2 linked regions of the Homo sapiens genome follow. The protein of the gene in region 2 interacts with the protein of the main gene of each other region in a pairwise test. Each region holds a gene or a part of one and is shown on either strand. Other genes may lie near its edges.

Region 1 (7,027 bases), about 130 Mb from region 2:
CACAAGTGAGGCTGGGCACAAAGGCTCACGCCTGTAACTCCAGCACTTTGGGAGGCCAAGGTGGGCGGATCACCTGAGGTCAGAGGTTCAAGACCAGCCTGGACAACATAGTGAAACCCTGTCTCTACTAAAAATACAAAAATCAGCCAGGCTTGGTGGCGCAGCACCTGTAATCCCAGCTACTTGGGAGGCTGAAGCACGAGAATTGCTGGAACCTGGGAGGCGGAGGTTGTGGTGAGCTGAGATTGCGCCACTGCACTCCAGCCTGGGTGACAGAGCGAAACTCCATATCAAAAAAAAAAAAAAAAAAATCCCAAGCGAATCAAGGGTAGACCTCAACAGAGTCAGAGCTGAAAGGAGCACAATGTATTTATATTAGAGACAGATTCTTTGATACCAAAGTTGAATTGAGAGAACAAACAGACTGAGAAAATGTGGAGTGAGATCTTTGCCTCCAAGTTGGGTTGGTGCTACAGCAGGGGTCGCCAACCTCTGGCTGTGGACCGGTACCAGTCCGTGACCTGTTAGCACAGCAGGAGGTAAGCAACAGGCTAGGGAGCATTTCAGCCTTGACCTCCGCCTCCTGTCGGATCAGTGGTGGTATTAGACTCTCACAGGAGCGCGAACCCTATTGTGAACTGCGCATGTGAGGGATCTAGGTTGCATGCTCCTTCTGAGAATTTAATGCCTGATGATCTGAGGTAGAACAGTTTCATCCCAAAACCATCATCCCCCAATCCGTGAAAAATTGTATTCCGTGAAACTGGTCCCTGGTGCCAAAAGGTTGGAGACCACTGTGCTAGACAGCTGGGCAAGGGTTAAGAAAGTTGATGCTTTTACACAAAAAGGCAAATATCATATGTTCTCACTCATATGTGGGAGCTTAAAATGTAGATCTCATAATGATACAGGGTAGATTGGTGGTTGCCAAAGGCCAGGAAGGGGAGGGGGGGATGGGAGATGAAGGGAAAAAAAAGGATATAAATATATTTATTACTACTGAACTGTATACTTACAAATCGTAAAGATGGTTAAAAAAAAAGAAAAAAGAAAGAAAAATCAGAATAAGGGCTATAGACTAAATAATAGTTCTTTATATTAATTGCCCTGTTTTTTAAAATAAATTATACTGTGGTCATGTATGAGAATATTAATTTTAGGAAATACACATAAGTCTGTAACTTTTTCTTAGGGTTCAGAAAAGAGAGAGGGAAATAAAACAAATATAGTAAAACGTTAACATTTGGAGGATCTGGATAAAAAGTATATGAGAATTTTTTGTACTATTATAACTTTCCTGCATGTCTTTAATTATGATTAAAAAAACTTAAATATAAGAAAAAAAGAAAAGAAAGAAAGTTGATGCTTTTAGTAAACTATGGACCCTCTCCCCAGAAGATTGTACCTAAGCTGGTGCAAAGAATGCTTCACTTACCATCTCAAGGGATTTAAAATCCACCAAAGACCGTTCTTGAGCCGAGACTAAGAGCAAGTGAAGCTTAGGAAAGTGGCCCAGAGAAGCCAATCAGGGAGCTAGCATCTGAGGAAGGAAGATATTTTGTTTGGGAAAATTCCAGAGGGAAAAAAAGTAAGGAAGCCATGGTTTCAGGGTTAAGATGGATTTGAGGATAGTGGTTTTGAACAGGTGAAGTGAATGGATCGGGGGACGGAAAGACAGAGACTTGATTGCAAATACCCAGCTATGAGAGTGACAGGCCACACCTTGAAATGTGGTACAAATCATCATCATCAGGAAATCCAGGAATGAGAGATTCATACAGGGAAGAGGTAGCATAGAATAAAAAATGCTAGGCCAGGAATGGTGGCTCACACCTGTAATCTCAGAAATTTGGGACGCTAAGGCAGGTGGATCACTTGAGGCCAGGAGTTCGAGACCAGCCTGACCAACATGGCGAAGCCCTGTCTCTACTAAAAATACAAAAATTATCTGGGCATGGTGGCAGTAGTCACAGCTACTCAGGAGGCTGAGGAAAGAGAATCACTTGAACCTGGGAGGTGGAGGTTGCAGTGAACCGAGATTGAGCCACTCCACTCCTGCCTGGGTGACAGAACAAGACTCTGTCTCAAAAAAAAAAAAAAAAAAAAAAAAAAGAATAAAACATTCCCAGTCTGGAGTCAGACCTAGGGTCAGACTTTCACCCTACTCGTGTTTAGCTCACCATTGAGAAGGCTGGCGTCTCTAGGCCTCTCATGTTAAAGAAGAGAGCTCATGGGGTGGTGTGAGAATTAGCTTAGCTAACACAAGTAATGTGTCTTACGTGAAACCTAGCATCCGGTAGCCCTAAGCAAATGGTAGCACATTACATGAGCAGATTTGGAGGATTCCATTCATTACCCCATGGTCTTACCAACAACACCAACTGAGGAGACAGGCCGCGCTGATGCTGTTTTCCACGATGCTCCGGAGGGAGTTGACCACTTATTTGCTTTCCTTTCAGCGAAGAAAGCATATTGCAGGGCTCTAGCCTGCCCTGATTGCAAAAGATATAGAAACAGCTCCTCCTCCTTCTTGATGCCCACTTCATAGGGATACTGCACAGCAGCCTGGACTGCACGGACACAAGCCTCCTGTGCAAGACACCCAGGGTGCTGCCTCCGCATCTTCAAGAGGGCCTCACTAAAAATGCTGTCCATGTTGGGCAAGCTCTGAATTGGCTTGTTGCAGAGTCTACGGGATTCTAGAGGTTGATCTGAAAGGAATAAGAAGGATCAGAGCTTTGGAAATGTTACTTGTACAAAGGGAATGTGAATATATAGTAATAACAATAACCTGTTCAAATTCAAAGCACAAACTAAAAGCTATTCATTAAGACATTTAATGTACACTAAACATATGTACACTAACATCTCTGATATCTTTGCAACACAGTCCTACAAGATAGAATTTAGTAGACTCAAAGCAATTTTAGGTTACCTAGTTTAGGCATAAAAGTTGTATTTTCTTTTTAATCCAAGACCAAGACAATTTTATAATAGATTAATGATTAATTAATTAAATTAATCAATAGATTAATATTTAATCTGTAATTAATATTAATATATTAAATATTAATGAGTCTAAGGAAAACGGTTCTGAGTTAATATTTTATTTATTAATTTTTAAAAATTATTTCAGCTTTTATTTTAGATTGAGGGCATACATGTGCAGGTTTGTTACATGGGTATATCACACGATGCTGAGGCTTGGGATATGAATAATCCTGCCACCCCAGTAGTGAGCATAGTACCCAGAAGTTGGTTTTTCAACCTTTGCCATCCTCCCTCCCTTCCCCTGTAGTAGAGACTCTAGTGTCTATTATTGAGTGAATATTTTAGATTCAAAATAACCTTAACTCCGTTCCTAATAGTAACAAAAACTTTAAAATACCTAGAAAAGGAGACAGCGTGGTATTGATGCAAGGATAGGTATATATATCAATGGAAGAGAATCGAGAGTTCACAAATAAACTCTTACAATTATAGCCAATGATTTTCAACATAGGTGTCCAAACAATTCAATGGAAGAAAGGAGAGTCTCTTTTTTTCACATTCAGAATTTTTATTTTAAAACAAAGAATCGGAGCAACATTAACAACAGAAAATCCATATGGAAATATTCACAATCTGCTCAGTGAGAAATGGGAAAACAACTTTCCTGCCTTACTGCCAACCTACTGTTTGAGGAGCCAGAAGTTGACGTGAGGTTGGAAGGTCACCTTTTCCAGCTAAATCCCACTGAATAGGTGTGTGCATTTTTATTCAAAGTCTCCGCAACCAGAGGGAACAGAACTGAGAACAAAAATACTGTTATTGGCAAGGGTTTGGCTAAAGGGTCTGGCTAAAGGGTCTGAGATGTGCAAGCACCAAGAAGGGATAGGGAGATTGAGCAACACATGAAAAGAGGGGCTGTAGGAACAAGCACCGAGAAAGTAAGTCAACTATAACCTACTTCCACCCAGAGCAAAGTGACTGTGCACATAAATCCACACTCTCAAGTGTGGGCTACACTGCACGCTGACTCATACGATCTCAAACGTGGTTTATTGGAAAGATTCTAGTCCCCTAAGGGCACTCAGCGAAGGACCACAGTGACATGGTAACAGATGCACACAAGCATACTGTGACCCTAAAGCAACAACACACTTTAGATAATAATCGTTCAGAAAAAAATCCTCAAAAGGAGAATCTTTCAACAAATCGTAGTGGGATAATTGGATATCCACATGCCAAAAACAATAAAAAAAAAAAAAAATTTAGGTCCTTACCTAGCACCATATATAAAAATCAACTGAAAACAGATCACAAATCTAAATTGAAGAACTAATACTATAAAAATTCCTAGAAGAAAATATAAAAAAATTTTCAGGACCTTGGGGTTAGGCAAAGTATTCTTAGATACAACACCAAAAGCATGACATACAAAAGAAACAAGAAATCAGACTTCATAAAAATTAAAGACTTTTGTTCTTCAAAGGATATCAATAAGAAAATGAAATGACAGCCAGGTGCAGTGGCTCACGCCTGTAATCCTAGCACTTTGGGAGGCCGAGGCGGGTGGATTGTCTGAGCTCAGGAGTTCGAGACCAGCCTGGGCAACATGGTGAAACCCCATCTCTACTAAAATACAAAAAATTAGCTGGACATGGTGGTGTGCACCTGTAATCCCAGCTACTCGGGAAGCTGAGGCAGGAAAATTGCTAGAACCTGAGAGGTGGAGGTTGCAGTGAGCCGAGATCATGCCATTGCACTCCAGCCAGGGTGACAGAGCGAGACTCTGTCTCCAAAAAAAACAGAAAAAAAAAAATGAAATGACAAGCCATAAACTAGAAGAAAATACTTGTGTGGTAGTCAGAATAACACCCCCCCCACCAAATGTTCATGTCTTAATTCCTAGAATCTGTGAATGTATAACCTCACATGGTAAAGAGATGTATAGGTGAGAGTAAGATTAAAGACCTTGGCTGGGCACAGTAGCCCACGCCTGTAATTCCAGTACTCTGGGAGGCCGAGGTGGGCAGATTGCTTTGAGCTCAGGAGGTTGAGACCAACCTGGGCAACGTGGTGAAACTCTGTCTCTACCAAAAATACAAAAAATTAGCCGGGCATGGTGGCGCACCCCTGTGGTCCCAGCTACTCTGGAGGCTGAAGTGGGAGAATCGTTTGAGCCTGAGAGGTTGCAGTGAGTGAGCCAAGGTCGTGCCACTGCACTGCAGCCTGGGTGACAGAGTGAGACCCCATTTCAAAAAAAAAAAAAAATTAGACATTGAGATGGGGATATTACCCTGTGTTATCTGATTGAGTGCAATCTAATCATATGAGTCCTTAAAAGCAGAGAATCTTTCCTGACTGTGGTGAGGGGGATTCAACAAGGAAGAAGGGTTAGAGAAATGCAACATGCAAAGGACTCGACCTGTTGGCACTGATGTAGCTTTGAATATGAGGAAAGGAGACCAAGAACTAAAGAATGCAGTGTTCTCTAGAAGCTGGGATTGACCTTTAAGGTTTACAAGGTCGCAAGTTTGCAAGCAAGAACATGGGGACTCTGATCCCACAATGCAAAGTACTGAGTTCTGCCAACAACCCAAATAAGCAGGAAACAGTTTCTCCCCTAGAGCCTCCAGAAAAGAGTGCACCAGCTGACACCTGGATTTTAGCCCAGGGAGACCTCTACAATACTTCTAGTCTACACAACTGTAAGAAAATAATTTCGGATGATTTAAACTGCTAAGCTTGTGGTAATTTTTTAGCACAGCAATAGAAAATATAATTGGCACATCAAATATCAAATAAAGAACTTGTTTCCAGAATATGTAACAAACTCTTATGACTCAATAATTAGGTAAACAATGTAATTTCTTAAACGGGCAAAAACTTGAGCAGTTATTTCATCAAGGAGCATATGTGAATGGCTAATATGCACACAAAAAGATGCTCGACATCATTAGTCATTAAGGAAATGCAAATTAAAACCGCAACAAATGTGGTAGACAGACTCTAAGTAATGGGCTGTCATTTCTAGATTAGGTTACAAAAAGACTCTGGCTTCAGTCTTGCTCATACTTTCTTGCCCTCTCAAATTGGTCACTCTGATGGAAGCCAGCTGCCCTGTTGTGAGCCACCCTATGGTGAAGCCCACGTGGCAAAGAACTGAGGGAGGCTTTCAGCCCACAGTCAGTGAGGAACTGAGGCCCTCAGTACAACAGCCCATACGGAACTGAATCCTACCAACAACCGCTTGAGTGAGTTTGAAAGCAGATTCTCCCCCTGACCCCTAATCAACCTGAGATGACTACAGCCACAGACAACACCTTGATTGTAGCTTTGTTTGAAATCTGAAAGCCAGAGGACCTAGGACACTTGGATTCTGGACCCACAGAAATTGTGGAATAAATGTTTGATTTTAAGCCACTAAGTTTTGGGGTCATTTGTTATGCAGTTAGACTTACTAGAATGACTATAATAAAAAGCCATCACTACTGAATGTTGGTGATGATGTAGAGAAACCAGAAGCCTCATACGTTGCTTCTGAGAGTGTAAAACAGCACATTGCTTTGGAAAACAGTTTAGTTGTTTCTTAAAAAGATAAACATAAACTGATTGTTCAACCCAGCAATTTCACTCCCAGGAATCTACACAAGAGAAATGAAAGCATATGCCATAAAGAAAACTTGTCTACAAATATTCATGGCAGCATTATTTATAATAGCAAAATCTGGAAACAATCCAAACATCCATCAGCTGTTGAATGACTAAAGAAATTTGATAGAGCCATGCAATAGAATATTATTCAGCAATAAAAAGGATCAAACTGTTGATACATGCTACAATACAGATACAGATGAGCCTCAGAAACATTATGCTAACTAAAAGAAGCCAGATGCAAAACATTACATATTGTATGATGCCATTTAGATCCAAGGTCCAAAAAATGCAAATCTATAGAGACAGAAAGATCAGTGGTTGCCTAGGGCTGGGGATGTGAGTAGGAGTTAGTGTTAATGGGCATGAAGAAACTTTTTGTGGGAGT
Region 2 (7,027 bases):
TTAAATGATTGGAACAGTTTTCCTTTAATATTACAATACTACTTATTTATTGGTTTGGAAACTAGGTCACCCTACATGATGTTTTGATTTTTCTCAAAGGCATCATGAGTACTCTGCTTATTCTTTCATTCTTGTATTTTTAGCCTTCTAGTTGAGTTAGGGACCATTTTATCAGAAATCATTTTAGCACTGTAATAAGAAAAGCTCTGTTAAGGGTAGATTATATACCATAATGATTTTCAGACTTCTTTTTATAAAAAAGGTATCTGGAGACTCTGAACAGGCACATGCATACTCAGGGGGAAGGGAACAAAACATGGAGGAGTCTGCCAAAGCACAAAACTTCCTTCTGGTCCTCACTGCCTTCAAATAAATACAACTATTTAAAAGAAAAAAAATATCTCACACTGTGATTTAAAAAAAAAAATCAGTATCTTCCATTTCCTGGAGAGTCTTTCCAGGAACCTGTGGCAGGGTCGGAGATCAGTCGTCTGTCTTCCGGGCTAGCCTACAGAAAGTCCAGTTGTGCTCCACTGTGTTTTCATTGGCCCGCTCACTCATGTGATGCACCCGGGTGTTGCGGATCGTGAAACCTTGTTTTGTAATGTATTCCATCAGGTGGACCCTAAGAGAAACTTCCTGGTGATAATCACAGGGTCCAAAAGTAAAGGAAACCTGGCAGTCTCTGGTGTCCATCATGTGCTTATTCCACTTGGTAAAATAATTTGAGATGCCTTCTAGTAAGGAATGGACCTTAGTGGTGATGGTTAGTTGCGTTATGATGACAGCCACTGGGTTGGAGTACTTAGAAAGCTTCCGAGTACTAGACAGCTCCACAACTTCTTCAAAAGTATCCATGGGATACAAAGGCTTAGGATCATTGAGACACTGAATCAAGGGCTCAATCTGGTAAAAATCTGCTTCTTTCCGAAGCAGATCAAATTCCTTAAAATCCAACGGTAAGGTCAATTCTGAAGTTCTTAAGAAGTTGAGGACATATCGGAAAAGAGGTCCATCTCGATCAATAAAGTAATTGCCTTGAGGGTCTCGAGCTGTGGGGAAGTCCCCCCCAAACATAGCTCCAAGCATGGAATCCGGGTAACGCGTCAATGTGGTGAGAGACGTTGTATACAAGTGTCCACCTACATTTAATGTGACTGGGTCAGTCATCTGAAATTTGTAAAGAAATGATCAGTCATCTGAAATTTTTAAATACTAACTTTGACAAATTAAGAAAGTAAGTGATACTGAGCAAAGCCCAAGATTCTTTCAGGCTATAATGTATTTAGTAATCCTCTAATGCAAAATGACTTTACTACCAGCAATAAACCCACCCAGATGAAGTGATCTAACATTTGCTTTCAATAGAAAAAAAAAGGAGAAATCCAATTTCTCTTTAAAGACTTATGCTAAGAATACAGGGCATTGACTTCCAGAGCCAAATCATTTCAGGCCCATTATCTATAGAGTTTTCAGGCCAGAATATATGTGGGAAGGGAAAAGCCACGCTAAAATACACTTATTTTTTTCTGATTTTTTTTTAAGGCTTGCATTTTTCTGAATTTAATTTAACATTAGATAGAATTAAAATGATCTGATAATATAGACATTTACTTTCAATATTTCTTTGGTTTCTCCCCCTCAAACAAAAGGAACAAACTATGAAATTTGTTTTTAAAATAAAAATTTGGGCCAGGTACAGTGGCTCATACCTGTAATCCTAGCACTTTGGGAGGCCGGGGCAGGCAGATTGCCTGAGCTCAGGAGTTCAAGACCAGCCTGGGCAACATGGCAAGACCCCATCTCTATTAAAAATACAAAAAAAAAAAAAAAAAAATTCACTGGGTGTGGTGGCCTGAGTAGTCCTAGCTACTTGGGAGGCTGAGGTATGAGAATCACTTGAACCCAGGAGGCACAGGCTGCAGTGAGCCAAGATCATGCCACTTCACTTCAGCCTGGGCGACACAGAGAGATTTTGTCTCCAAAAAAAAAAAATTATTTAAATTAAATTAAAAACTGTGCAGACCTAATCTTGGTAACTTTTTCATGGAAGTGATACTTTCAAATACTAAGTTAAAATATACAGTTTAGTCAATACAACCAAGCCAGAAAAGCATCACATACCCAAAAGCTTACAGCAGCCATAAAATTTCATAATCTGATAGTGTATTCACTTTTGTAACATTAATGCTGCAATCTGGCCTTTAATTCTGAGAAGCAAGCTTCTCTTAAAAAACATACCTTCAGTTTTAGAAATACTATTTACGAAAAAAATAGGCCAGGTGTGGTGGCTCACACCTGTAATCCCAGCACTTTGGGAGGCCAAGGAGGGTGGATCACTTGAGCCCAGGAGTTGCTGACCAGCCTGGGCAACATGACAAAACTCCATCTCTACAAAAAATACAAAATATTAGCCACACATGTTGGTGCCCACCTATCGTCTCAGCTACTCAGGAGGCTGAGGTGGGACAATCACCTGAGCTTGGAAAGTCATGAGCCGAGATCACGCCATTGCACTCCAGCCTAGGGAAAAGAGCAAGACCCTGTCTCGAAAAAAAAAAAAAAAAAGGAAGAAAGAAAAAAGAAAGGCAGACAGAGACTTCAGGTATAGGCAAGTAAAATATACCTTACACCAAAGGAATAGAAAAATAGGGAGACATATGCACACACAAAAAATGCAAGTGGGGAGAAGAGGCACTTTCTCAACCATTAATCTCCCAAACCACAACAAAATATCCTCCAAACTCACTAGATCCCTTTGTAGTCACTATTCATGAAGAAAGAGTCTTCAGAGCAACACACTTGAAAAAATAAAAAATCACGTTACCTCTCCAGTGATTATAAAAAGTATTTGGAAAATCCATTTTGAGTTTGATTCCATTAAAACACCAAACAAAGGCAGAGGATCGTTTGAGGTCAGGAGTTCGAGATCAGCCTGGCCAACATGGTGAAACCCCGTGTCTACTAAAAATACAAAAATTAGCCAGATGTGGTGGTGCACGCTGATAATCCCAGCTACTCAGGAGGCTGAGGCAGGAGAATCTCTTGAACCTAGGAGGTGGAGGTTGCAGTGAGCCAAGATCGCGCCACTGCACTCCAGCCTGGGCAAGAAGGCGAGACTCCACATAAAAAAAATTAAATAAAAATTTAAAAAACACCACACAAGACAAAAACGCCTCCAAAATACATCTAAACTAAGTAAAAGGGGGAAGAGAGGTTACACAAATTCACAATTTTCTTTTCTTATAAGATATACCTAAAAATACATAAGGATAAAAAGACACACAAAAATAATTCCCCAGCCTTCAAAATGCATCTCCAAGAAGCACTCACCATATAGCCCCAGTCTCCATTATCCATCTGCTCCAGTGATGCGTCTTCAAGAGCCCAGGTTTCAGGGAAACTTCAAGAGGAGAAAAACAGACATATGATAGCATATATAACTAGGAAAATAGAGAAGAAAGTCTTTTTCCACCCAACAGAGGAGGCCAAACACCAGAAAAACTACTCGTCCTTGCTCAGCTGAAACCTACTACAGGGCAAAGATCTGGGGAAGAAAGCATTCCCCTAGGGCCTTCTACATGTCCTGTATTCTTACCATAGAGAACCCATCTGGAACTAAGAGACTGAAGATTTTCAGAGAAAGAACTATACTGTACTTAAGAGAAGGAGGAAGAGTCTAGGAAGTAACCCAGTCATTCAAATTCTACCTCTCTTCTTAGAACATCAATTTTTAGAATTTATATAAGAGAATATTATGATTAACTCTACAACCTTATCCTGGTACAAACCTATAATGGTCCTCACCAAAAAGGTCATTTAAGAAAAAGGGACAGGCTGGGCGCAGTGGCTCATGCCTATAATCCCAGCACTTTGGGAGGCTGAGGCAGGAGGATCACCAGGTCAGGAGTTCAAGACCAGACTGCCCAACATAGTGAAACCCCATCTCTACTAAAAATACAAAAAATTAGCTGGGCGTGGTGGTGGGCACCTGTAATCCTAGCTATTCAGGAGGCTGAGGCAGGAGCATCACTTGAACCCGAGAGGCGGAGGTTGCAGTGAGCCGAGACTGTGCCACTGCACACCAGCCCCTGCAACAGTGCGAGACTCCATCTCAAAAAAAAAAAAAAAAAGAAAAGAAAAGAAAAAGGGAGAAGGGAAAACTCCTTTTCATCAGCATTTCAGCTATACAAGCCAATCACCTGAGTAAAAACATCAAAAATCATAAACCTCCCAGGATACCAGCATCCCTTTCCAAGAGAAATACATCAGAATGGTATTTATCTTACAATATAAAAAAAAAAGATGATGCTTTTAAATAATGATGTATTTCTCTTTGTACAATTAAAACAAATAGAAAGTGATTTAAATGCCGAAGTGTTAAAGAGCACAATTTGGGGCAAAAAGAACCTTACCGATATAGATGAGAGTCAATCAGCCAGCACTCATGGAGAGCCAGCCTTAAGACACTGAGAAATGCTCAGATACTAATGATGCCAATGTGAATTTATTTTTATCTACAATTCAAAAGCATTTAAACAAACAGTTTCCCAGCTACTGAACTGCCTTAGTCAGTTCCCTCTCACACACTTCAATCCCAAATCAACCTGTAAAGCAAACTGCAGAGCAAATTTCTAAAGCTCTGGCAAGACATGGTAAGAAACATGGACTTATTGGTATTCATCCAGGAAAAGCACTGGCTTTTTTACGTGGTCCTTTAACAGATTCACTTTTCCCACTTTTAGAGGAATCTGGCACAGAATTCCCAGAACAAGCCCTAGCTACAGAAGATCACAAAGGCTCTTTCTCAAAAGGTCACTCAGGCATGTAGAGAACATTTGCATAGCACAGCATGGGCTGAAATCAGAGCCTGAAGCATCTATTTCTCTACCTTGCAAATCCTTCAAAGCACACAACTAAAATGTGGACCAGACTATGGGGCAGTCAGTTTTTATTCTTTACACTCAGCAGTTGGATATAGACAGGCCTCCACATGCTATGGGGTGAGAAATGGAACAAATGTCAAATTCAAGACTGTTATGACAGTCTTTCATTCCTCTGACTTGCTTCACAAATAGTATCCGAAGTAAACAGGACCAAGAAATGGGCTTTGCCAATTTGTCTTGCCAGGATCTGATTCAGTTACTGATAACAACAGATTAGTAACTGAGCAATTTAAAAGGCCACTCATCCAAAAGTTCTGGTAAGATGCTCATCTTTGGCATTTTCCCATCACCCAAAGTATTCATTCTGACAGCCTCAATAATCATTCATTCAGCCAACAATTATTGTGGGTCACCTATGGAGTGGAGGGGGTGCCTATGTGCAATGCGGACACACAGAAAGAGGAAAAAGACAATCTTTGCCCTCATGGAGCTTTCCATCTATAATGGAAGGCAACATGCAATGACTGAAGTACAGAACAGAATTCAAAGTGCTGTATAACAGATGGACCAGCAGAGGCCCGTGAGAGGGGAAAAGCAAGATTTCAAATGGGAAATAGAGGACTTCTGGGAAGAGCCCATTCAGTTGAATCCTTGAAAGAAAATTCGGACAACCTGAGAAGGGATTCTAGAAGGAAGAAACAATTTAATAGACAGGGGCATGAAAGACTTTTTTTCCCCCTACAACATTCCTGATACCAGTAGGCCGAGCAGGGATTACTATCCTCATCTTAAAGATGCAAAACAGAGAAACAAGGCAGATTAAGTGACTAGCTGAGGGCGCCACAGCTGGGAAGTAACTAGATAAGAACTTGCATGTTCTGACTCTTAGTCTAGATTTTTCCATAAATCCCCTCCTAGGGTAGAAATTGAAAGAACAGAATCCAAGAGACAAGAAATTGAAAAAGCTTAACTTTAAACTCTCTATAGCCATCTATTAACCCTATCCATCCAGTAGGGTTTTATTTACAAATTTTACAGTAACTCAGCCTAACTAAACAGTCATAATGGGTTTGTAAAAATTCTCCTGAGGCCCCCCCACCAAAAAAAGGCAGGAACCCATTCAACTAGTGTGAATAACGGTTGCTGTCCTGTCTGTAGTGACATAAAGAACTCCAATCCGTGAATATCCAAATGATTAAATGAGAAACAGAAGATCAAAGACAAGGAAAAAAGCAGACATCAATGTTGCAGCCGTTAACGAAAAGTCTGTCCACTATTAACCCTTTTTTTCTTTTTTACTGCTAAATCAAAACAAGGTAACTTCTTGAGCAGTTATCTAAAAAAAAAAAAAAAAAAATTAGACGATGTCCCTGAATCTGTTCCACAGCAAAAGCAAAAGTTCCGGTACAAAGATGTAATGAAAGCTCACGCTTAATAATTCAGGAAAGCAATTATGGGAATCTACAGCCCATGTTTCTTAAAAACCACCCAAAAGCCTTCCTATACTTGTGTATAAGATACATCAAAATAAATTGAAGCAAAGTTACTATTAGTCACTTCCAATAACAATGAGTAAACTGTCTAAAGAAATCAAATTGTGCATTAAAGAGTTCAAAGGGAAAAAACAGTATTGATTAGTTTAAATTTTATCTCTACCTGCTTCTAAATATCTTCTGTGGAGATGCTTAAATACAGCAAGAAACAAACAAACAAAAAAAAAGCATGAAAAATTCCCTGTTATCCAATAGCTGGATAATGATCGGCTTCTGAATTCTGAATTGACGACCATTAGGAACATCTCTGAAACGATGCAGATGAATGAAATACAATCCCAAAGAATTTCCAGAATAGTTTCAATCTCTTCTACTGAATCATTTTCCAGAGCTACTAACAATTAGAAAATGATTCATTTGCTTTTCATCTTCTCTCCCTTCTGGCACAGTCTCCAGTGGAGGGCTTAATGAGAAGTTAAATGACCACAAGACAGGCAGCAGAAGGAAGATCTTGAAATGGGTATCAAATAGGCCTATTTTACTTGATGAAAGCAAAGAAATATCTAATATTTCAGAAAATCTACCAGGAATGGTAACAATAAAAAATTTTTCCTTTATAGTGACTTTCCTTACTAAAACTAAAGATGG

Evidence for each region. Proteins that work in one complex are often made in the same cells at the same time.
Region 1: the proteins of KCTD6 (region 2) and EHHADH interact in binary tests that used the Homo sapiens proteins (3 or more experiments, as listed by UniProt).

Annotation. Positions count from the first base shown.
Region 1 is NC_000003.12:185,202,047-185,209,073, forward strand, and holds part of EHHADH (peroxisomal bifunctional enzyme), read right to left. Parts: intron 2,712-7,027; coding exon 2,370-2,711; intron 1-2,369. UniProt on the Homo sapiens protein: Peroxisomal trifunctional enzyme possessing 2-enoyl-CoA hydratase, 3-hydroxyacyl-CoA dehydrogenase, and delta 3, delta 2-enoyl-CoA isomerase activities. Catalyzes two of the four reactions of the long chain fatty acids peroxisomal beta-oxidation pathway.
Region 2 is NC_000003.12:58,495,089-58,502,115, reverse strand, and holds part of KCTD6 (BTB/POZ domain-containing protein KCTD6), read right to left. Parts: intron 3,752-7,027; exon of another isoform or gene 3,404-3,751; 5' UTR 3,361-3,403; coding exon 3,334-3,360; intron 1,171-3,333; coding exon 484-1,170; 3' UTR 1-483. UniProt on the Homo sapiens protein: Probable substrate-specific adapter of a BCR (BTB-CUL3-RBX1) E3 ubiquitin-protein ligase complex mediating the ubiquitination and subsequent proteasomal degradation of target proteins.